Linked DNA regions of Homo sapiens: region 1 is linked to region 2. The links come from fine-mapping of genetic effects on gene expression. A gene starts in region 2. The other region holds a variant in brackets. All regions are shown on one strand. Distances are from middle to middle.

Evidence for each region.
Region 1: its variant is fine-mapped to the expression of TBCC in whole blood (TOPMed, PIP above 0.99). The same link has a PIP of 0.9 or more in T cells and blood mononuclear cells.

Annotation. Positions count from the first base shown.
Region 1 is chr6:42,764,532-42,776,570 of GRCh38, forward strand. It overlaps a transcript of BICRAL not described here. Among named protein-coding and RNA genes, the nearest start is that of BICRAL, 12 kb to the right of the region's middle. RefSeq lists a silencer at 6,248-6,297 and an enhancer at 6,768-6,967. The variant G/GT (reference allele first, on the strand shown) is at 7,126.
Region 2 is chr6:42,739,120-42,751,158 of GRCh38, forward strand. TBCC (tubulin folding cofactor C) reads right to left here and starts at 6,984. Exons shown (of 1, transcript NM_003192.3): 1 at 5,379-6,984. The coding sequence starts at 6,954. The coding sequence ends at 5,914. It also overlaps a transcript of BICRAL not described here. RefSeq lists enhancers at 6,473-6,632, 6,693-6,772, 6,803-7,012, 7,077-8,040, 8,427-8,476 and a silencer at 7,983-8,042.

The DNA.
Region 1 (12,039 bases), 25 kb after region 2:
TGTCTTAAAAAAAAAAAAAAGAGTTTTGTGTTGCATATATAGATTTATATTATGTAACTGTATTCTATATATACACATACACGACTTGAGAGATAGGTTGTATTCTTTTTATAGGTTATGGGGTCTTTTGTTTGTTTGTTTTTTTGAGACGGAGTCTTGCTTTGTCACCCAGGCTGGAATGCAGTGGTGCGATCTCAGCTCACTTGCAAGCTCTGCCTCCCGGGTTCATGCCATTCTCCTGCCTCAGCCTCCCGAGTAACTGGTACTACAGGCGTGTGCCACCACGCCTGGCTAAGTTTTTGTATTTTTAGTAGAGACGGGATTTTACCGTATTAGCCAGGATGGTCTTGATCTCCTGACCTTGTGATCCACCCGCCTCAACCTCCCAAAGTGCTGGGATTACAGGCATGAGCGACCACGCCCGGCCTAGGTTATGTTTTAAAAATGTTAGAAAAACGTTTTGTGAATAAATGATGCCTTGCACTTTATGGGGCTCAGAAGTGTTTGTTGAATTGGATAAAGAGCTGTCTTTGTGTCATTACAACGCTGTAGCAATAAGGAACTATGCATGCTGAGCCAACTCCTGTGAAATGTCTTGTCAAGTGAGAACCTATTTGTGCTGCAGAGACTTTTCCCTTCTGTAGTTGGTAATAATAATGAAAGTTTGCTTTTACAAAGTAACTATTACAAAGTTGCATTATTATTGCTAAACAGTGAAAGAGGCTGATTTGGAGGACGGAATAATGGCAGGAAACATTTAGGAATGTGAATGCGTAACAGGGCTATGTTGCCAGGGATTTGTAGCTCTGACAATTGGGAGTTCTCTCTGGGAGAGATCCCAGTGGTCCATGACATGTAGTAATTTGAAATTTGCTGAGGCGCAAATTCAAGTACATCCTAGGAGGCTTGTGGGGAGGGAGACAGTCATTGAGCTAGTGAGCAAGCCACGCCCCCTGCTCCATGTATGTGTTTAAACATGGCATGCATGCTATTTTTTTCTGTTCTTTGTCTTCACAGAGTAATTCCCTTCAGGTAATAGAAACTCTTTTCATCTGAAGAATGATGATGAAGTGAAAGGTGAAGCTTGAGTGAAATGTGTGTTGCAAACATAAGCCAAGGAAAATATAGGCTCTTGATAAAGGTGTGAGTTCCCCAGAAAGCCAGAGCCACTGTAGGACTTCATGTATCGTACAAGTGGGCGATTCCTGGTGCTCTCTTGTTGGTAGCTCTACAGGCTGTCAGGGATCAAGGCAATATTATTTGCTGCTTTTTTTTTAAGAACCTGTAGGGGTGAGCATTGATTTGAGGCAATATATAATGATTGATTATATAGCCTGTGGAAGATAGAAACTTAGTGTGTAGAAATCGTTTAAAAAGAGGAAAAACTATATTGTATATGTGGGGATTTGTTTGTTTGCTACTAATTCCAGTGCTTTTTGTTTTTGTTTTCTATTTATTTCTTTTGAGACCAGGTTATAAGACTGGCTAATTTTTGTATTTCTGGTAGAGACAGGATTTTGCCCAGGCTGGTCTCGAACTCCTGGGCTCAAGCTATCCATCCACCTTAGCTTCCCAAAGTGCTGGGAATGCAGATGTGAGCCACCATGCCCAGCCTTCCGGTACTTTTTCATCAATTGCTTTAGGAGTGACTTTGTAAAGTTCTCTGATATTATCTGAGTAGTCAAGTTCTTTAGGATTGTGTCATCAGTCTCAAGTTTGCCCAGAGCTGGGGCTTTTCCACAAATCTTGGGGGTAAGAGAGAGAGATGAAGAGTTGGAGCCAGGACAAGGATCGTCAGTGGGAAAATCAGGACCAGATTCTGCTTCTACCTTCATGTGTAGATGCTGACTCTTTTGAAAGAACTACAATAAAGTCACCTGTGGATTGACCCACATGCCTTAGCTCTGAAACACGCAAACTGGCTAACTGGGGAATCCACTCCCATGCCATTCTCTAATATTTGTTCATCTAAACTTAGCATCCTGTAATGTGCTTGTGAGTCATAATTGCAATTGTAGAAAGAGAAAGAGGCCTGGCACAGTGGGTCACGCCTGTAATAGCACTTTGGGAGGCCGAGCGGGTGGATCACTTGAGGTTAGCAGTTTGAGACCAGCCTGGCCAACATGGTGAAACCCCATCTCTGCTAAAAATACAAAAATTAGCTGGGTGTGGTGGTGAGCACCAGTAATCCGAGCTACTCGGGAGTCTGAAACAGAAGAATTGATTGTGCCGGGTGCCGTGGCTCACACCTGTAATCCCAGCACTTTGGGAGGCCAAGGCGGGCGGATCATGAGGTCAGGAGATCGAGACCATCCTGGCTAACACAGTGAAACCTCGTCTCTACTAAAAATACAAAAAATTAGCCGGGCGTGGTGGCAGGCGTCTGTAGTCCCAGCTACTCGCGAGGCTGAGGCAGGAGAATGGCGTGAACCCGGAAGGCGGAGCTTGCAGTGAGCTGAGATGGCGCCACTGTACTCCAGCCTGGGCAACAGAGTGAGACTCCATCTCAAAAAAAAAAAAAAAAGAAGAAGAATAGATTGAACCTGGGAGGCAGAGGTTGTAGTGAGCCAAGATTGTGCCACTGCACTCCAGCCTGGGCGACAGAGTTAAGCCTCTGTCTCAAAGAAAGAAAGAGAAAGAAAAGAGGAGAGAGGAATGTCAACTTAATTAATTGTTTAAAAAGAGGAAAAACTGTGTTGTATGTGTGTGGATTTGTCTGTTTGCTTATTAATTCCAGTGCTTTTTTTTGTTTTCTATTTATGTCATTTAATTATTAATTAATGTCATTTAATTTTAAATGAGAAATTATGCCTCATGTAAAAGTTTTTTTGTAAAAGGCTAGGCTGAGATTCATTCATTGCCTCACCATGGATGCCACCATGAGTCTAACTCTGCTGTCTCAGCTCTGCAAACACAGATGATAGATGGGCATCTCATCTGAACATCATTAGGTCCAGGGAACACTTGTCCATGCCACCCTGACTGACTTTAATCCAGTGGGTGTTTGTTGAGTGTCTGCTACCTGCAACACCAGCCAGGTGGCTTGATATGGTAAAGACGCAAGAAATGTTAGCTTAACATATTGATGCAAGCTACTGTAGTTGGCCCTGGGGAGAAGGGAAGTATAAAAATGAACAAAGTGTAGTCTTCATCTCCTTGAGGCTTACAATCCAGGGACAGACAGGACAAGTAATTATTAGTCAAGCTGACCATACTGTGTGTTATCAAGGAGGAAGGAAGTTCTATGGAAGTACAGAGGAAACAGGAGGGTGGGAAAAGTGGGAAGGCAGGGGAGGTGTCCATAGGAAAGGAACACCAGGCAACAGGAAGAACACAGGCAGAGCTGGGTGGACACCAATTGAGAAACTTGGGAATAACACCGCATGGCAAGAGTGGAGAGTGGTCTGGAGCAGCATGGAGGAGGCGTGGTGGAAGATGGGGCTGGAGATGCCAGTCATTCTGAGGGTGCTTGGGGACCTGTCAGATGGTTTAGAGCAGGGAGTGAGGCATCAGATTTGTGTTTTAGAAGAAGGTGAAGAGAATGGATTGGAGTAGGGGAAGTGCCATTGGGAGGCTATTGTAATGTTTCACTGGATAAATGACAGGGCTTGACTGAGAGCAGTGGAAATGAAATTGAGGTTACTCAAGAATGATTTGTCTTCGAAAGCCAATCTGTGAATTTATAATGGGCATGAACTTACCAACCACTGGAATGATTAGGTCAGCTGGCCGGAACACTACTTTTAAAAGTGAAGTCCATTAATAATCAAAAGATTACTGGCTGAAAGTGAAGTGAAGGCAAAAGGAGTTGGATGGTCTGAGAGGACCTTTTACCCCATCGATAGTAGTTTTTACATAGCAGTAATACTAAAGCTTAATCTTTGGTGGGTTGTTGTTCTCTCTGGAGAGATACTTGGCCTGCCACAAAAGGAGGAGCTGCTTCTCTGGCCAGCACTGGACAGAAGCTGGCCAGCATATTCCAGGATCTTTGGTTTGCAAGAAAGTGAGCTTGCTCAGATTAGCAGGTAGAATGAGGAATAATCGTAAGGAAAGGAAATATTCCAACTCCAAAGCTAGAAAGCCAGCCAGGCCTCAGGGGACTCAGATATCAATCAGGCACTTTCTCCTCCCTTCTCCCCTCCATGCCCAGTGAGAATCTGCTTTCTTCCCCTCTACCCCAATCACTGGTCCTTCTGAGGCCGTGCACTTACATGGGCCCCATTACCACTTCTCCAAAATGGTGGCATTGCCCCCTAGGCTTTCTAGCCTTGTAGTCTGCTCCTCACAGCTGACCCAGTCTCTGTGTCCCAAGTGCTAATACCCAGAAGAGAGGATCCTAATGGCCCAGGTTGGGTCAGATGTCGTTCTCTAAGCAGGCTAAAGATGTGATGTGACAGATGCTTTGAGAAAAAACAAAATAGTAGTAAAGAATGGGTAACTCTAATATATTTTAAACGTTTCTGGACTTCATGTTAACCCAGTGTATTGGTTGTCTATGACTATATAACAAGGCACCCTAAAATGTAGCAGCTTAAAACAGCAAGCATTTATTACGTCACAGTTCTGTGGGTCAGGAATGCAAGAAGAGCTTAGTTGAGTGTTTTTGTCTCAGGGTCTCTCATGAGTTTATAGTTAAGCTGGCCCCTGGGGCTGCAGTACTGTGAAGGGTAGGCTGGGGATGATCTGTTTCCAAGCTCACCCGTGAGGCGGTCTGGCTACCAGCAGGATGCCTAAGCTATTAGCTATTGGCTGGAGACTTCAGTTCCTCACCACATGGGTCTGTCCATAGACTCTCTGAGTGTCCTCATGACATGGCAGCCAGCTTCTCCCAGAGTGAGCGATCCAGAGAGCACCCAAGATGGGAAGCTTCTGCCCTATCCTATTGGTCACCCAAACCAACCCTGGTACACAGTAGGAGGGAGGATGCACAAAGGTGAGAATACCAGGAGGTGAGGCTTGCTAGGGGCCATCTTGGAAGTTAGTTACCATATCTGGTCAAGAAACATTCCTTTAGTGCCTACTGTGTGCCAAGTGCCGGGACTGGGAGCTACATGACACAGAGTCTGTCCTAGAGCATCAAGCTCACTGTCTGGGCTGGAGAAGCCTCACACAAACACAATACCATGTGTGCTCGGAGCCCTCACCTCTGCCCACCGACCTTCCATACTGCTACCACATTTATCCTCATGGAATTCAAATCTGTTCATAGCATTCTCTTATTGTGTCCTGTTTGTCTAGAATTTTTTTTGTTCAAAAACTTAAAGATCACCACCACAGTAAGAAATACACTTATATTACAAACAAGTACATACATACACAGACACATTTATAACTGAAACAGATTTCCCAAGTTTACACCCTTACTGCTTGTATGTATTCTGGTATCTTCTGATCTAGGTTCTTTCATTTTTTATAAAAGCTGGTCACAGTCTCATGACTTGCACAGCCTACTGCATTGTGACCTGCAGTGTGGAAAGCAGCGGCCTACGGATCATCCACACCCTTCCATGATCTGCAAAGCCCCTCATCATCTGCCTGTCCCCCTCATTTATATTTAAGGACTTTGCCAAATACACTCTCTTAGGTTCCTCTACCAGGAGCTCTCTTCTGCCTTTCCCCATGTGATTTGGAGAACTCTTAGTCATTCTTTAAAACCCAGCTTTAAAGTATCTCCTGTTCTTCCCTCTCTTAGTTTTTTGTTTTCTTTTGTTTTTTAAGACAGGGTCTTGCTCTGTCACCCAGGCTGGAGTGCAGAGGCGTGATCTCGGCTCACTGCAACCTTCGCCTCTCGGGTTCAAGCGATCCTCATGCCTCAGCTTCCCGAGTAGCTGGGATTACAGGCACGTGCCACCATGCCCGGCTAATTTTATTATTATTATTATTTTTTTTTTTTTTTTTTTGAGACGGAGCCTTGCTCATATTGCCCAGACTGGAGTGCAGTGGCGCAATCTCAGCTCACTGCAACCTCCACCTCCCAGGTTCAAGCGATTCTTCTCCCTCAGCCTCCAGAGTAGCTGGGATTACAGGCACCTGCCACCATACCCAGCTAATTTTTTGTATTTTTAGTACAGACGGGGTTTCACCATGTTGGCCAGGCTGGTCTCGAACTCCTGACCTCAGGTGATCCACCCGCCTCGGCCTCCCAAAGTGCTGGGTTTACAGGCATGAGCCACCCCACCCGGTCAGTGTTTTTGTTTTTTTCGGTCTGGAGTGCAGTGGCGCAATTTCCACTCACTGTAGCCTCCACCTCCCGAGTTCAAGTGATTCTCCTGCCTCAGCCTACCGTGTAGCTGGGATTCCAGGTGCCCGCCACCACGCCCCGCTAATTTTTGTATTTTTAGTAGAGACGGGGTTTCACCACGTTGGCCACGAACTCCTGACCTCAAGTGATCCGCCTGCCTCGGCCTTACAAAGTGCTGGGATTACAGGCGTGAGCCACCGCACCCGGCCCTCCCCTCTCTGAACAGGATTGCCTACTCTGTCCTCCGACTCCCAGAGCTTTTCACTGACACCTGGGGACTGCTGGGTCCCTCCTTCTCTCCTAGCCTGCCCAGGGCCACCCCAAGCCTGCAGTAGATTTTCATTTATCTCTGTAAGAACGTTTACAAGGACATGGAGCAAATTAGCATCACACAAATGACGATGCTGCAAATGAGCGGTGTACAGGGTTGGCGGGTGTTGCAGGCAGGTTTCCTGTCGTTGGCGCCACGTGCTGCAGAAAGAGGACCCCTCCCCCTGCGGGCCGCCGCTGCGCCCGTGCATCCGTCACAGGTACAATTCGCACCGGAACTTGCGGCCCGGCTTCATTACGTGATGCTTTTTAGCTGCTCTGGTTTCTTTTTGTTTTTTCTACTTTTCTCATTTGTTTGTGTTGTTAGGGACCGCCTAGTGAGAAATTGAGCTTCAGGCTGCGCAGATAGAAAGGCCTCTATATCTGCATCCCCACCCCTGTGGGGGTGGCGGGGGGTGGTGGGGGGGTCCTGTCTGAAGTGGTAGGGAAGGAGGGTTTTGAGGTTTTTGACTATTTGCTTGCAAGTATCTAAGTAAGAGATTTGTTTGCCCACATTTGCACTCTCTTGGCTAGCAACCCGACAAAATATTTTCTGATGGTTTTTCGTGTATGTG[G/GT]TTTTTGTTTTTGAGGGAGAGAATAATTAACACCTTGGTTAAATTGTACTGAGATACAATGGCTGTTTTTAAAAATTGCTGTTAACTGAAGGGTTGAAGCTAGTATAATTCCCAGGCTCAGCCTCTTGGGAGGCTGAGTCTCCAATAGCATAGTCTTCAATAGACTATGCTGTGAATTGTAATCAGAAAAGAAAAAAAAATTAGACACGAGCAAAAGCAATTAAAGTATTTATTCTCCAATATTCGCATTTCTGCATTTGTCAGCAGCTGTGGAACTGTCACAAGATATGCTGATTTGGTTGTGGTATGTGCCTGTCTGGGGAGGGGAGGAGGAGGATGAAGGCAGACTGTAAACAAATCATTATTGTAAAGTGATCAGTGGGTAATAGAGGCGTGTATAGAGTGCATAGAGAAGGGACTCACTCATTTTAAGCAATGTTTTTCAAATGGGGTCACCTCCATTAGTGAATCATGAAGTCCTTTACCAAGTGCCTAACAGCATTTGAAAAAATAAAGACAATATAGAATGAAATACATCAAGATGCATCCTCCATAGTAGGTTTAGATATTTTTTTTTCAAAAACCTTTGTTTCAATTATATATCTACTGAATTACAATGTGAAATGTGTTTCTTGGGATTGAGTCTCAAGCAAAGATGTTTGAAAGCCACTGAGTTAGGCGACGGGAGAAGGCTTCCCAGAGGAGGTGGCATTGGAGCTGGGCCTTGAAGAATGGTGGACTTGTGCCACAGGAAAAGGGAATTCCAGGCAGATGGGAAAGGATATGTCCAAATCTGGATCTGTTTGTTCAGGGGCAGGGTATTCTCTGTAAAGGGACCACAGGGTACTAGGAGAGGACTGGCTCGAGATGTGCCTGGGGAGGCAGGTGGAGCCAATTACCGAGCCACTTGAAAGTACATATACCACTTCTCAGCTTGCCCTAGAAATTCCCATTCTCTGGTTATGGATTTGGGTTTGGGAATCTGTACTTGCAATAAACATCCCTGGGCAGTGAGGCAGTGAGGTGCTGATGAAGGTGTGACACAACCAGCTCTAGAATCTAGAAAGATGATCTTTGTAGCAATTTGGATAGGAGATCAATGGGAGGCCAAGCAATAGGCGGACCTGAATTCAGGTGATGGTAATTGGCAAAGAATTACCATTGAGGGAGGATGGTATTCGAGGGAGATTTTGGAAGTGAGTTTTGTAGGGACCAAGGGAAAGCTTCACCTCCGCCCTGTGAAAGTTTGCTGAAAATGAACTGGCAGTAGACAGATTAAGAGGAGAAAAGACATAACAATTTATTTAATATTTAACATGTATAGCATGGGGGAATAGCAGGAGAATGATTACCCAATAACCCAATGAGGTCCAGGTGCCTAAGTACCCTTCTTCACAGAAGAAGGGGAGATGGGGAGTGGAGCAATTTTTTTTTTTTTTTGAGACGGAGTCTTGCTCTGTCGCCCGGGCTGGAGTGCAATGGCACGATCTCGGCTCACTGCAACTTCTGCCTCCTGGGTTCAAGGGATTCTTCCGCCTCAGCCTCCTGAGTAGCTGGGATTACAGGCACCCGCCATCATGCCCAGCTAATTTTTGTATTTTTGTAGAGACAAGGTTTCGCCATTTTGGCCAGGGTGGTCTTGAACTCCTGACCTCAGGTGATCCACCCACCTCAGCCTCCCAAAGTGCTGGGATTACAGTCGTGAGCCACTGCACCTGGCTGCAATTAAAAAAAAAAATTAAAAAAATACAAAGCATCGCCATGTTGCCCAGGCTGGTCTCGAACTTCTGGGCTCAAGCAGTTCTCTAGCCTAGGCCTCCTAAAGTACTGGGATTATAGGCAAGAGCCACCTTGGCCAGCCTTTTTTTGTGTGTGTGAGACGGAGTCTCGCTCTGTCACCCAGGCTAGGGTGCAATGGCACAATCTCAGCTCACTGCAACCTCTGCCTCCTGGGTTCAAGCGATTCTCATGCCTCAGCATCCCGAGTAGCTGGGATTACAGGCGCCCACCGCCACGCCCAGCTAATTTTTGTATTTTTAGTAGAGACAGGGTTTCTTCATGTTGGCCAGGCTGGTCTCAAACTCCTGACCTCAGGTGACCCATCCGCCTCGGCTTCCCAAAAGTGCTGGGATTACAGGCGTGAGCCACCACGCCCAGCTGGCCAGCCTGTTTTTGGGGATGATGGCCCATTGCAGCTTTGACCTCCTGGGCTTAAGCGATCAGAGCAATTTTGAAGGGTAGCAAATGATTTTTAAGAAGAATAAATGGTTCAGGGGACAGAAATTATTTTGTAAATGATTGTTTTGGAATTTGAGTGAGAGGCAGACATTATCTTGTGAAAAAACCCGTCCAGATGTGATTGCATTTCTCAGTCTTTTCTGTGACAAATAATGAGATTTCAGAGAGGAGAACTAAGGCAATTCTGTTTCTCTTTTGGGGTCCAGTAGTTAAGGAAACTTCAGAGAACATCCTGTGCTTTTGAGAGAGACGGAGGACTGAAAAGATAGGGGTTTGGAGGAGGAGAGGTCAGAGAGACCTTGAGGCCCATTCTTTAGTTCAGCATATCAGGGTGCCATCTTTCAAGCTATCATTTTTCTGAGCTCCAACAGCTCCATGGTTTGAGGGAGAATGAGGAGGAATCATAGACAAATGAAAAGTATCCAGGGGTTGGTCTAGGGGAAAGGTGGGTGTTACAAACATGCATAGAGACTAGAGAGGAAGAGCAAATTCAGAAGGGAAGATGATTACTTGAGTTTTGGTGCTTGCATGTGGTGGGGCAGGAGTAACTCATCGCATTTTCACCAGGCCGCGTGCGAAATATCCTTTCAGAGCATCAGTGTGCCCTTTGCTCTGACTGCCAATCTCTGAACATCCTCCTGATTGTCTTAGACCTGACTCAGGATTGATAAATACACCTAACTAGTAGTTGATTGTATGATTTATAGTGAGAGAGATATATAAACATTTGGAGTATAAGAGTACCTTTGCACAGGGTGTCACTTTTACAGTATTAGGGTCCCTGGGAAATGGAACTAGTAATTGGAAGATTTAGGAAAGAAAGAATTATATGGTCTAAGGGTATTTAATCAGGCTCTAAAAAGTGCTCAAGTAAGAATGTGGCTCTTTAGTGATCAGAATACTTGTGAGGGTCACACAGTGTCTCCACTCCCGTAGTTTTTTTTTTTCTTTATTGTCAAGGATATTTCTTTGTGCCTGCTTAGTACATACTTATTTCCTTGTCTTCCACTCATATTTATGAGTCATCTTTTTCAGAGTGGTTCCTTTTTTTTTTTGAGACAGAGTTTCGCTCTTGTTGCCCAGGCTGGAGTGCAGTGGCGCCATCTCAACTAACTGCAACCTCCGCCTCCCAGGTTCAAGCGATTCTCCTGTCTCAGCCTCTCAAGTAGTTGGGATTACAGGTGCATGCCACCACACCCAGCTAAATTTTGTATTTTTGGTAGAGACAGGGTTTCACCATGTTGGCCAGGCTGGTCTTGAACAATCCTGACCTCAGGTGATCCGCCCGCTTCAGCTTCCCAAAGTGCTGGGATCACAGGCGTGAGCCACTGCGCCCGGCCAGAGTAGTTCCTTCTTCAGATGTTTTACCTCTTAGTAGTTTCATTTTCAGAAAGCACACTGACATTTATTGGGCAAGTCCCTTTACATGGGTGTTCTATCTTAGAGACTGACTTTCTCACTAAGCTCCAAGTGTGCTTTGTGGTAGCACCTTAAAGCCTGATTATGTGACCTCCATTCCACTTCCTCTCCACTCCCCCATCCTCCTGAGCAGGTGGAATAGAAGGAATGCTCTATTTAGGAGAGTTAAAGAGTTCTGATAGAATACCAGGGGGACCTGGGAGCCAGTGAATGGCACATCCTGGGCATGCCTTCCAACAGCATGTGGTGCCCCCCTAACCTGATGGCTGTCCTCCCCTCAACATATTCTATGGGGAAACAGTCTACATGGGTAAGACAGGAAGGCCAGTGGGAGTGCTGAATGCTTTTTTTTTATTATTAACAGCTCTGCTGTATTGTATTAATTCCTTATCCTTGTACTGAAAGCTTGTAGGAGTTCAGATTTTTTTTAAGTCTGTCAAGGAAAATAACCAGCTTGAAACATGTCATTTAATATAGAGACAAATAGCTTTAGTCCTCTACAAGGATGATGTGAAGTGTTTAAATTCATATATTGAATAAAATAATGTAGGCAAGGTATTGAAAACATTTGTAATCACTCCAATAAATTGCTTATCATTGCTTTGAAAATAATTCCACGGTACTTTTAATAACAACAACAACCACAACAATAATGGCAACTGTTATTCAATACTATATATGGGACACTGAAGCAAAGGTTTTTTATTTTATTTATTTATTTATTTTGAGTCAGAGTCTTTCTCTGTCACCCAGGCTGGAGTGCAATGGTGCAATCTCAGCTCACTGCAACCTCTGCTTCCTGGATTCAAGCAATTCTCCTGCCTCAGCCTCCCGAGTAGCTGGGATTACAGGCACCCGCCACCACACCTGGCTAATTCTTGTATTTTTAGTAGAGATGGGGTTTCACCATATTGACCAGGCTGGTCTCTTGGCCAGGCTGGTCTTGAACTCCTGACATTGTGATCCTTCTATCTTGGCCTCCCAAAGTGCTGGGATTACAGGCATGAGCCACTGAGCCCGGCCCTTATTTTTATTATTATTTTTTTATTTTTGAGACAGGGTCTTGCTCTGTCGCCCAGGCTGGAGTGCAGTGGCTTGATCATGGCTCACTACAGACTCAACCTCCCAGACTCAAGTGATCCTCCCACCCCAGCCTCCCAAGTAGCTGGGACCACAGGCACATGCCACCATGCCCAGCTAATTTTTGTATTTTTTGTAGAAATGGGATCTGACCATGTTGCCCAGGCTGGTCTCAAA
Region 2 (12,039 bases):
TACTCATTGCATTACTATTACTCATTGTATCAAATAACCCATAAATTTATACACCTACTACTTATCCACAAAAATTAAAAATTTAAAAATTTAAAAATCCTCCTACTTCAGCCCCCTGAGTAGCTGGGACCACAGATATGCACCACCATGCCTGGCTAATTTTTTAATTTTGTGTTAGAGATAGGGTCTCATGTTGCCCAGGCTGGTCTCTAACTCCTGGGCTCAAGTGATCCTCCTACCTCAGTCTCCCAAAGTGCTGGCATTACAGGGGTGAGCTACTGCCCCATCCAGTACTTTTTATTAAGGCCCCTGGGGACATATCCCAGTTTTTTCTTCTTTTTTCTTTTTTCCCTTGAGACAGAGTTTTGCTCTGTCACCCATGCTGCAGTGCAGTGTCACGATCTCAGCTCACTACAACATCTGCCTCCCAGGTTCACATGATTCTGCTGCCTCAGCCTCCTGAGTAGCCAGGATTACAGGCATGCACCACGCCCGGCTAATTTTTGTATTTTTAGTAGAGATGGGGTTTCGCCATGTTGGCCAGGCTGGTCTCGAACTCCTGACCTCAGGTGATCCTCCCACCTCAGCCTCCCAAAATGCTGAGATTACAGGCGTGAGCCACTGCGCCCGGCCCCAGTATCCCAGTCTTACAGCTGTTATTGGACTGAAGAAGTCAGTTGGTTCTTTAACGTCAGTCACAATTGAACCCAAGTCAAGTCTAGCCCATAGTTTCCAGAGATGTAATGTTATAGTTTGGGTTTCCATGGCAGGAAACACATTTCATGCCATGACCATACCAAAATTGAAGATTAAGAGAAACTAAAATCAGCCAGGCGCAGTGGCTCATGCCTGTAATCCCAGCACTTTGGGAGACAGAGGTGGGTGGATCACCTGAGGTCAGGAGTTCGAGACCAGCCCGGACAACATGGTGAAACCCCATCTCTACTAAAAATACAAAAATTAGCTGGGCGTGGGCCAGCCACGGTGGCTCACGCCTGTAATCCCAGCACTTTGGGAGGCCGAGGCGGGCGGATCATGAGGTCAGGAGATCGAGACCATCCTGGCTAACGTAGTGAAACCCCGTCTCTACTAAAAATACAAAAAATTAGCTGGGTGTGGTGGCGGGCGCCTGTAGTCCCAGCTACTCGGGAGGGTGAGGCAGGAGAATGGCGTGAACCCGGGAGGCGGAGCTTGCAGCGAGCCGAGATCGCGCCACTGCACTCCAGTCTGGGCGACAGAGCGAGACTCCGTCTCAAAAAAAAAAAAAAAAAAGAGAAATTAAAATAAAATAAAATACAAATAAATAACAAACATAAACTAAACATGTACCCAGTCAAAAAGTTAAATTGGCTTGTTCTCACTTGTAACCTCAACACTTTGGGAGGCCAAGGTGGGAGGATCCCTTGAGCCTAGGAGTTCAAGACCAGCCTGGGCAACATGGTGACATCCCAGCTCTCCAAAAAAAAGTAAAAAAATTAGCCAAGTGTGGTGGCTACTTAGGATGCTGAGGTAGGATAATTGCTTGAGCCTGGGAGGTCAAGGCTGCAGTGAGCCATAATTGCACCACTGCACTCCAGCCTAGACAACAGAGTGAGACCCTGTTGTAAAAAACAACAACAACAAAAAAGCTAAACTGTCAATGCTCCTTGGGAGAAATTTGTGCATGAACTGGATTTGCTAATGTTTATTAAACTGCAACTTCTATGGAATGTTCTTGGTAATGTCCATAAGCATTCCTCTGCTCAAGGACCTTAAAAGTCATCCAACTTTTTAATCATCTTTCTTGGAAATTACCATCTCTGATGAGATGTGCGTGAATGGCCCTCCCCGGAGAATTTCAGTAACCAAAGCTGGGGAAAAAGCAGTTACTCCTCCCTCCTTCATTTCCCCTCCTCAAAGATTACAGCTAACTTTTATGTAAATCTTTAGTACTTTTTGATTGGCCAGAAGTTTCCCCTGTTCTTTCCCATAGTGGTCGTTCCTTGGTTTCTCTTTAAGCTTTTTCCTTTTTTTTTTTTTTTTTTTGTGAGATAGTGTCTTGCTTTGCCACCCAGGCTGGAGTGCAGTGGCGTGATCTAGGCTTACTGCAATCTCTGCCTCCTGGGTTCAAGTGATTCTCAGGCCTCAGCCTCCCGAGTAGCTGGGATAATAGGTGCACACCACCATGCCCAGCTAATTTTTCTATTTTTACTAGACACGGGGTTTCACCAAGTTGGCCAGGCTGGTCTCGAACTCCTGACCTCAAGTGATCTGCCCACCTCAGCCGCCCAAAGTGTTGAGATTACAGGCGTGAGCCACCGCTCCTGGCCTCCTCATTTTTTTTTTTTTATTGAGACAAGGTCTCACTCTGTCGCCCAAGCTGGAGTGCAGTGGCACAATCACAGTTCACTGTAGCCTTGACCTCTAGGTTCAAGCAATCATCCCGCCTCAGCCTCCTGAGTAGCTGGGACCACAGGCGTGTGCCACCATGCCTAGCTAATTTTTGTATTTTTTGTAGAGACAGAGTCTTCCTATGTTACCCAGGCTGGTCTTGAACCCCTAAGCTCAAGTGATCTTCCCACCAAGGCCTCCCAAAATGCTGAGATTACAGGCATGAACTACCAAGCCTGGCCCATGCCTCATTTTCAAAAGAGACTAAGGAAAATCCCAGATTTCCCAGAGGAAGTGACATTTGTCTTGTATGAAATTTTGGCAAGTGCATGGGGACCCAATCTGTGTGGGCACTGCTCGAGAAAAGGCCAGGAAATACGGCAAAAACTATTTGCACTGAATATTTATTTTTTGAGATGGAGTTTCGCTCTGGCATTCAGGCTGGAGTACAGTGGTACAGTCTCGACTCACCGTACCCTCCTCCTCCCAGGTTCAAGCGATTATCTTGCCTCAGCCTCCTGAGTAGCTGGGATTACAGGCGCCTGCCACCATGCCCGGCTAATTTTTGTATTTTTAGTAGAAACGGGATTTCACCATGTTGGCCAGGCTGGTCTCAAACTCCTGACTTCAGGTGATCCACCTGCCTTGGCCTCCCAAGGCAAATCCCAAGGCAATCCCGAAGTGCTGAGATTACAGGCATGAGCCACAGCGCTGGCCTGCCCTTAGTGTCTTCCATTTCCTCCTCCAGATCCATTCTTCATTTTTCTCCACGCTGTTCTACATCCTGGGAGCTGACTCATATGGACTGCGGCAGCAGACTTCTTTGCCCTGAAATTTCCAGTTGGGCTCTACCAACGGGAGGCACCAATAAAAGAGAATGACATTGTTTAAGTCCCATGGCTCTCTCCCTGCCAGGTCACCATGGATTGGCAGCATCCCTCCACTGAGGACTGAAACTCCTGTCAGGTAGCTCAATAACTGTCTATCTCTCTCTGCATTCAGGTAACATTTTTGTCCCTTCAGCCCTAAGGATGGTAACAGATATTGTACCATCTCTAATTGCTTTTCTTATACTCTGCCCACAGCTTTGTAAATAGCTCCTGTATTAAGCTCTTCTCAAAGTATCCATTTTGAGCAAGCCATCTGTTTCCTGCCAGAGCCCTGACATTGTGTTTGATTAATGGGTATTAGTTCAGACTAGCTGGTGCATGAAATGTGTGTGATGAAACAGTAAAACATCATGTAAGAACAGTAGGCTGAAACAGATGGTGGAGGGGCTTGTCTTCCAGGCCAGGAAGTCTATCAGATAATAAGAATCTCAGAAGGTTTTAGATCAGGAGTGACATACTTTAAGAAAACTAATTTAGTAGCTGTATGCAGAATAGTTCAGAAATTGGAGATGGGGAGATGAGTTAGGAGATGATTACCATTACTAGTAGAGGAAGGTAATATTTTGTAACCATCAAACTGGCAAAGACCCAAAAATTTCTTTTTTTTTTTGAGATGGAGTTTTGCTCTTGTCGCCCAGGCTGGAGTGCAGCGCCACAATCTCAGCACACTGTAACCTCTGCCTCTTGGGCTCAAGATATTCTCCTGCCTCAGTCTCCCAAGTAGCTGAGATTCCATGTGTGTGCCACCATGCCCGGCTAATTTTTGTATTTTTAGTAGTGACGAGGTTTCACCCTGTTGGCCAGGCTGGTCTCGAACTCCTGACCTCAGGTGATCCACCTGCCTTGGCCCCCCAAAGTGCTGGGATTACAGGGATGAGCCACCGCGCCTGGCACCACCCCCTTTCTTTTTTTTCTTTTTTTTTTTTTTATACAGAGTCTTGCTCTGGAAATGCAATGGCACAGTAATGGCTCACTGCTACCTCTTCTTGCCAGGTTCAAAGGATTCTCATGCCTCAGCATCCCGAGTAGCTGGGATTACAAACACGCACCACCACCCAGCACTTGGAAGACCACGGGGGACAGATTGCTTGAGCTCAGGAGTTCGAGACCAGCCTGGGCAACATGATGAAGCCCTCTCTACAAAAAATACACAAATTAGCCGGGGGTGATGGGGTGCACCTGTAGTCCCAGCTACTTGGGAGGCTGAGGTTGGAGGATATCTTGAGCCCAGAAGGTCCTTCACCCAGACCCTGTCTCAAAGAAACAAAGGAAAAAAAAAAAAAAAAGGACCGGGCACAGTGGCTCACGCCTATAATCCCAGGACTTTGGGAGGCTGAGGCAGGTGGATCAGCCGAGGTCAGGAGTTCAAGACCAGTCTTGCCAACATGGTGAAATTCTCTATTAAAAATACAAAAAATTAGCCGAGCATGGTGGCGGGCTCCTGTAATCCCAGCTGCTCGGGAGGTTGAGGCAAGAGAGTCACTTGAACCAGGGACGCTGAGGTTGCACTGAGCTGAGATCACGCCACTGCACTCCAGCCTGGGCAACAAGAGCGAAACTCTGTCTCAAAAAAAAAAAAAAAAAAGAAACACGTAAAGAGTGATGGCTCTCCGAAGGAACTGAATGTCTAGGGACAAAGGAATTACCTATGGTTTTTTGTTTTTGAGACAGTGTCTCACTCTGCCACACAGGCTGGAGTGCAGTGGCGTGATGTCAGCTCACGACAACCTGTCTCCCAGGTTCAAGCAGTTCTCCTGAGTAGCTGGGACTACAGGTGTGAACTATCATGCCCGGCTAATTTTTGTGTTTTTAGTAGAGACGGGGTTTCACCTGGCACCGGGTCTCCAACTCTTGACCTCAAGTGATCTGCCCACCTCAGCCTCCCAAAGTGCTGGGATTGCAGGCGTGAGCCCCCGGGCTCAGCTCTGGAATTTATTAAATATGTATCTATACCCTGACACTGCTGGTTACTGTCTATAATCCGAGTGTTTTGGGAGGCTGAGGCAGGAGAATTGCTTGAGGTCAGGAGTTCGAAACCAGCCTGGGCAACATAAGGAGAGCCCATCTCTTTAAAAACAAAACACACACACACACACACACACCAAACAAACCCATGTATTTACTGCAGACCTACTTTATTATGCACCGTGATGTTTCAAGTATCACAAACCATTACAAAGCAATATAATCACCCTCCTTCCCCCTTACTGCTTCAAACTATTGTGGTAAAAATAAATAAATAAAGCCCTGGCGTGGTGGCTCACGCCTGTAATGCCAGCACTTTGGGAAGCTGAAGCGGGTGGATCACCTGAGGTCAGGAGTTCGAGAGCAGCCCGGACAACATGGCGAAACCCCGTCTCTACTAAAAATACAAGTTCGCGTGGTGGCGCGCGCCTGTAATCCCAGCGCGCCACCACGCTGGGGGACGGAGTAAGACTCAGTCTCAAAGGCATGACGAAAATAGCAAAAATGCTTTAGTGTTATACCTGTTACGAATTTAATGGAAATTACAAGTAGGAGCCCATTACAATCTCTAGCCTTAAAATGCTGAAAACATACACAGTGTGACAATAAGTAAACTTCGAGACCCAATAAGGGGGAAAGTCCAACGTGGAAAGTATTTGGTAGGAGTGAAGAACAGAGTGACAACTGCTTAGTCCCACTGGATATTTCGCTCCTCTTCAGGAAGAATACTCCAGTTTGGGGAGGCCATATCCCGGGCCAGCCAGTTAAAATCGTCAACATCGTTCCAGTTATTTTTGCTCCTATCTAAACCAGAGCTCTCGAAGTCCTTGTCGATCTCCGGGTAGCTCCAGGTGTAAGGGGCGAACTGGATCCCACTGCAGTCCTCCACGATGGCCCTGCTGGTCACCTGCAGGAAGATGCGGGTGTCTTTCGTACTGTGTATGCGGAGCTGTTGGCAGGCCACTGCCAGCACGCAGTCACTGCAGTCCTCCAGGAAAACAGAGGTAGACACCGGACCGCAGAGCAGCTTGCAGCTGTGGGCCTTGGTTAGCCGCAGGGTGTTGGGATTTCCATACAGTCTGACCGTGCAGTTGCTCAGTTCGGTCAAAAGAACGTCGCGCTGGTGCAACTCGCTGGCTCTCTTCTCCAAGACTTGGGACTCCAGGTTGGAGAAACCGCAGACCCAGCTGGGGCCGAGGTCTCCTTCCGCCTTCTTGGGCAGCGGGGAGTCCTGTATGCTTTCAACTGCCGGGGGGATGCCAGGAGCCGCGTCTACTTTGGTAGACGAAGCAGCATCCTTTCCCCGGGTCTTGAAAGCGAAACGCTTCTTGGGCTGCAGCCCCCGGCGCCGCTCGGCCAAGGCCGCCTGCAGCCGCGCCAGCGCCTCTTGTCCCTGCCGCAGGTCGTAAGCGGCTAGGAAAAAAACTGAGTCGTTGATTAGTTTCTGCAGCCCCTGGAGCCGAGAGGCCGCCTCCTCCAGCCGCTCGACCGACTCCGCGCGCTCCAGAAGCTCTTCCACGGCCGCTCGCTCCCGAACAAAGGTGGCGACGAAAAAGTGGCTGTTCTCCTTCTCTACCTCCTGGTTCTGCCGCTTTTGTTTCCGCCTTTCAACTTCCAGCTGCCGTTCTTGTTCGCGTCTCTGAAGCCGCTCAGGCACCAGGCTCAGGTCCCGCTGGGACTCCATGTCTCCGGTCCTGACAGCAGCAGCGGAGCAACTGACGGACTCCATATTGGCTTCAAGCTTCCTCTCTCTTGTCTTCCTTCCTCCGGGCGCGCTGTCCGTGAGGCCTCCCACCAACGCGTCCGGTGATTGGCCTAACATGATGATGTCAGATCCCCGGCCTTATTTTCTTCGCCTATTGGTTCCTCTGCGTCGGAGGGGGCGGGGAGATGGGGCGGGGCCGACTGACTATGGGGGTGGGAAGACAAAGGTTCTTGTGGATGGGTGGGGTGGGAGGCAGGCGGGGGAATCTTTTTTTTCCTCTTAAAGGGGCAGGACTTATATCCGGGATTGTGGGGTGAGTTGCAGCAGCGGCAGCTGCACATGTGGGTTTGTTTATAAGAACAAGGTTAGAAACTCGCAGGCCTCCCCCTCCCCCCAGCTCCTCCCTACTACCCCCTTACAGGCCGGAGATCCGCTACTAGGGGTGTGGGTGGGAGGGATGAGTGCGTGTGGTGGGTTGGGGGGACAGGTAGTGGTGAGAAAGATGGAGCGGGGGGGAATATTGCACCGCCTGGCCCGCGCCGGAGGAAGCAGCAGCTGGAACAGCTGGCTGGGGAGCCGCTTGCATGCCTCCGGTTTTTTCTTTTCCCTTCCACCACCCCTTCCCCCAACCCATTTCTGCCTCCCCGTAGCCCTCATCCTTACCGCCCCCCTCCCCCCTATCCACTGCAGTTCGGCGCGGCCTGGGGGCTCCTGGATCCCCGCAGGCAGTTACTAGGGCAGGAGAAGGCAAGGGGCACTGCGATGGGAGAGACTGGGTTCCTCACTGCAACCTGGTTCGAGGGGCCCTGGGGGAGTCCATAAAAGGATTACTATTTTTTTGGCCAATTGCTGCAGTCGGAGGGGTGGGGGCGGGGGAAGGTGAGATCCACACCCCCTTCCTCTTTCTTCCCTGCCCTCCCCGAGCTCGGTCCCGGCCACTCCCTCCGCAGCTGGGCGTCGCCGGCCGCGCTGGGGTGAGACCCTAGCCCCGGGCTCCGTGGCTCTCTGGGGCGGTCGGTCTTAGGAAAGCGGTGGGAGAAGCGGTACATTATTTCTAGGGGTGGTGGGAGGGATTTGTCACCGGAAGTGAATGGCCTAGCCTAAAGTCGGGACCAACCCGAGGTGTGGGTGGGCAGCCAAGACGGCGCAGTCACTGGCAAAAACCCGAGGCAGCGGGCAGGGCGAGAACCCGAGACGCAGCCGCTGCCCGGGCGCGGCAGCCTCGCATGCTTCGCTCAGATCTGCGGAGCTCCCGAACCTCTTTAACCCTGCCCGCCCTTCCAACCCTAGGTTTCCTCCTTATATCCCCAGTTCCCAGCCTCCATCGTTTAAATTGGGGTATTTAACGACCCAAGAAACTTGAAATTTCACCGATCTACCTGCATTTTGATGCAGAGAAAGATGGGAGGAAACGCGAACCATTGAATTAAATCTGAGTTAAAACTGATCTCCCATTTTCACGCCCCACTCTCTTCCTTTCCTTCCCACTTAAAACAAACAAAACACACATAAATTGCTGGGCCAGAGTATTTCTCCGCTGAGAGCACAGTTCATACCGTGTGGCAGATTCCCCGCGCAGGCGGGGCGCGGGGGCAGGGGAGAGGCTTGTGTGTCCGCGTGCCTGCGTGCACCCGATGGAAAAGGGGGTGCCGAAAAACAATGGTGCTTACTCTTGTGCATAGTCATCGTTTTCACTAGTCTTGTTTTATGGGCAGATTAGGTGAGGCTTCTGTTTTTGCTTTTTTGTTTTATTTTGTTTTTTTTTTTTTTTTTTGAGACGGAGTTATGCTGTTGTTGCCCAGGCTGGAGTGCAATGGCGCGATCTCGGCTCACCGCTATCCGCCTCCCGAGTTCAAGTGATTCTCCTGCCTCAGCCTCCCGAGTAGCTGGGACTACAGGCATGCGCCACCATGTCCGGCTAATTTTGTATTTTTAGTAGAGACGGGGTTTCTCCATGTTGGTCAGGCTCGTCTCGAACTCCCGACCTCAGGTGATGCGCCCGCCTCGGCCTCCCATAGTGCCGGGATTACAGGCATGAGCCACTGTGCCTGGCCCTTTTTTTTTTTTTTTTTTTTTCCAGAAAAGCAGGTTTATTTCACAAAACTGTGGGTCTGAAAGCTGGTGGACAAGAAAGCTAGTTATATTGTCCAAGTCGTGGAGGAATTGCAATAGCTGCTTTATTTTATGAAATGTTGATTTAAGCAAAGAAGCTTTAGAGAAGATTTATTTTTCTAGAAAAAAACAACCTGACCTTTTAAGTTTTTCAGGTTGAACCTGTCTCACTCAAATTAAGAACGTTTGTAGCTAAAGAAGGTTTATTGGACTTGGAGGTTGCAGCTGGAGTGAGATAACATTTCGGTATTAGGCATAGTGAATCTATGGGTGTTGTAAGTGTTGGCTGTATCCCAAGTGGAATTGAATGTTATTAAACCCTTTCAAGAACTTCATTTCTGTCTACCAACAGGTTTTTGCTACAATCCAGTAGACTTGGGAAGTTTCTAAATACTTGAAGTTGGTTAGTTCGAACTTTCAAGAAAAGGAAACAGTTAAAAACAGAGCTTGACAGGTCACCCAGGTGACCCGGTGTGTTAGGGGCAGTTTCAAAGACTGATGTGAGGAGTAGTGGAAAGGGGTCAGTGAGTGATACGGTCATTGTGAAGCATTGGCTGGACAGTTCTTTACAGCCCCCCTGCACAGCTGCAGGCTGTGAGGTATGTGGTCAAGAAATGGAGATAAAGCTGTTTCTGAGTTCAAACACAGTAGGAAGGCTGCGAAATGGCTGGCATTGCCCGGCTGTGTTTGCATCCTCTCTCTGCCATTTGAGGGCAGTGGATTCAGCATGCATCTTTGAAATATATCCCAGCTTGTCAGAGGTAAGTGCCTGTTTTGATGGAAGGAGAGTGGGGAATGCATTACGGGGGAAATGTAGCAAAAGGCAAGCAGCTCTGAGTTCTGCATCCTACTTTCAATGATATCTCAAAGGGCTTGTGAATCAAGGTACTGCTCTCTTGTAGACATCTTGAAAAATGAAAGAATTCTAACGTATTATGGACTTTACCGTTTATTTAACAACAGTTTAGATACTTTATGGTTCTATTTGTTAGATCCCCCTTTTAACTTTTTGAAAATTTCCAACATATATAACATGGAGAGGGTATTAGAATAGTGTTCCAAGGACTCACATACCCATCACCCAGCTTCAACAACTGCCAACTGATGTTAAGTAAATAAGCCAGGAACAGAAAGAAAAATATCACATGTTCTCACTCGTATGTGGGAACTGAAAAAGTTGATCATATGGAGTTGGAGTGTAGAATGATAGTTACCAGAGGCTGGGAAGTGGAGGGAGATGAAGTGAGATTGGTTAAAGGGCACAAAGGCACAAGTTAGATAGAGGGAATAAGTTCTAGTGTCAGATAGCACAGTAGCCTAATTCGAGTTAACAATAATGTATTGTACATTTCAAAATAGCTAGAAGAAAGGATTTGAAATGTTCCCAACACAAAGAAGTGATAAATGTTTGAAGTAATAGATATCCCAATTATTCTAATTTGACCACTACATATTATATGCATGTATCAAAATATCACATGTACCTCATAAATATGTACAATTATTATATATCAATAAAAATAATAATAACTTTTTAAAAAACAGTTACCAACTGAGAATCTTGTTTCCTGTAAAGCCCTAGTCACTTCCCCACCTCTCACCCTGATTATTTTTTGGCCCATCCCTTATATTATATTATTTCATATTTTATTGTCTATAAATATTTCACTATATACCTCTAAAAGATTGGGAGTTCCTTTTTTTTTTTTTTGAGATAGAGTCTCGCTCTGTTGCCCAGGCCAGAGTGCAGTGGCACGATCTCAGCTCTGTGCAACCTCTGCCTCCCAGGTTCAAGTGATTCTCCTGCCTCAGGCTCCCAAGTAGCTAGGATTACAGGTGCCCACCACCACGCCCGGCTAATTTTTTTTAATATATATAGTTTTAGTAGAGGCGGGGTTTCACTATGTTGACCAGGCTGGTCTCGAACTCCTGACCTCATGTTCTGCCCACCTCTGCCTCCCAAGGTTCTGGGATTACAGGTGTGAGCCACCGTGCCTGGGCCCTTTTTTTTTAAATTGAGACAGGGTCTCACTCTGTCACCTAGGCTAAAGTGCAGTGGTGCAATCACAGCTTACTGTAGTCTTGACCTCCCAGGCTGAAGTGATCCTTCCACCTTAGCCTCCTGAGTAGCTGGCACTACAGGTGTGCACCACCACTCCCAGCTAAATTTGGTATTTTTTTTTGCAAAGACAGGGTTTTGCTGTGTTGTCCAGGCTGGTCTTAAACTCTTGGGCTCAAGTGATCTGCCCACCTCGGCCCCTGGAAGTGCTGGGACTACAGGTGTGAGCCCCCACGCCTGGCCACTTCCCTTTTAAGACAGCCACATTGCCGTCACCACACTCCAAAAAAGCATAGAAAATATTTTCTCAATAGCAGATTGCCAGTCTATATTCACATCTGATTATCCCATAATATACGTTTGCTTTTTTCTCAAGACGACGTCTTGCTCTGTCGCCCAGGCTGGAGTGCAATGGCGCGATCTCGGCTTACTGCAACCTCCACCTCCTGGGTTCAAGTGATTCTCATGCCTCAGCCTCCTGAGTAGCTGGGATTACAGGTGCCCACCACCATGCCTGGCTAATTTTTTGTATTTTTAGTACAGATGGGGTTTCACCATGTTGGGCCAGGCTGGTCTTGAACTCCTGACCTGAGATGATCCGCCTGCCTCAGCCTCCCAAAGTGCTGGGATTACAGGCGTGAGCCACCGCGCCCGGCCTTTTTTTTTTTTTTTTTTTTTTTTTTTTTTTAATACTTTAAGTTCTGGGATGCATGTGCAGAATGTGCAGTTTTGTTACATCGGTATACATGTGCCATGGTGGTTTGCTGCACCTATCAACCTGTTATCTAGGTTTTAAGCCCCGTATGCATTAGGTATTTGTCCTAATGCTCCCCCTCCCCTTGCCCAGTTTCCTTTTTTTAAAGTTATTTTATTTGAATAAGGATCCAAACAAGTTCCATACACTGCATTTAGTTATTGTGTCCCTTAAATCACTTTTT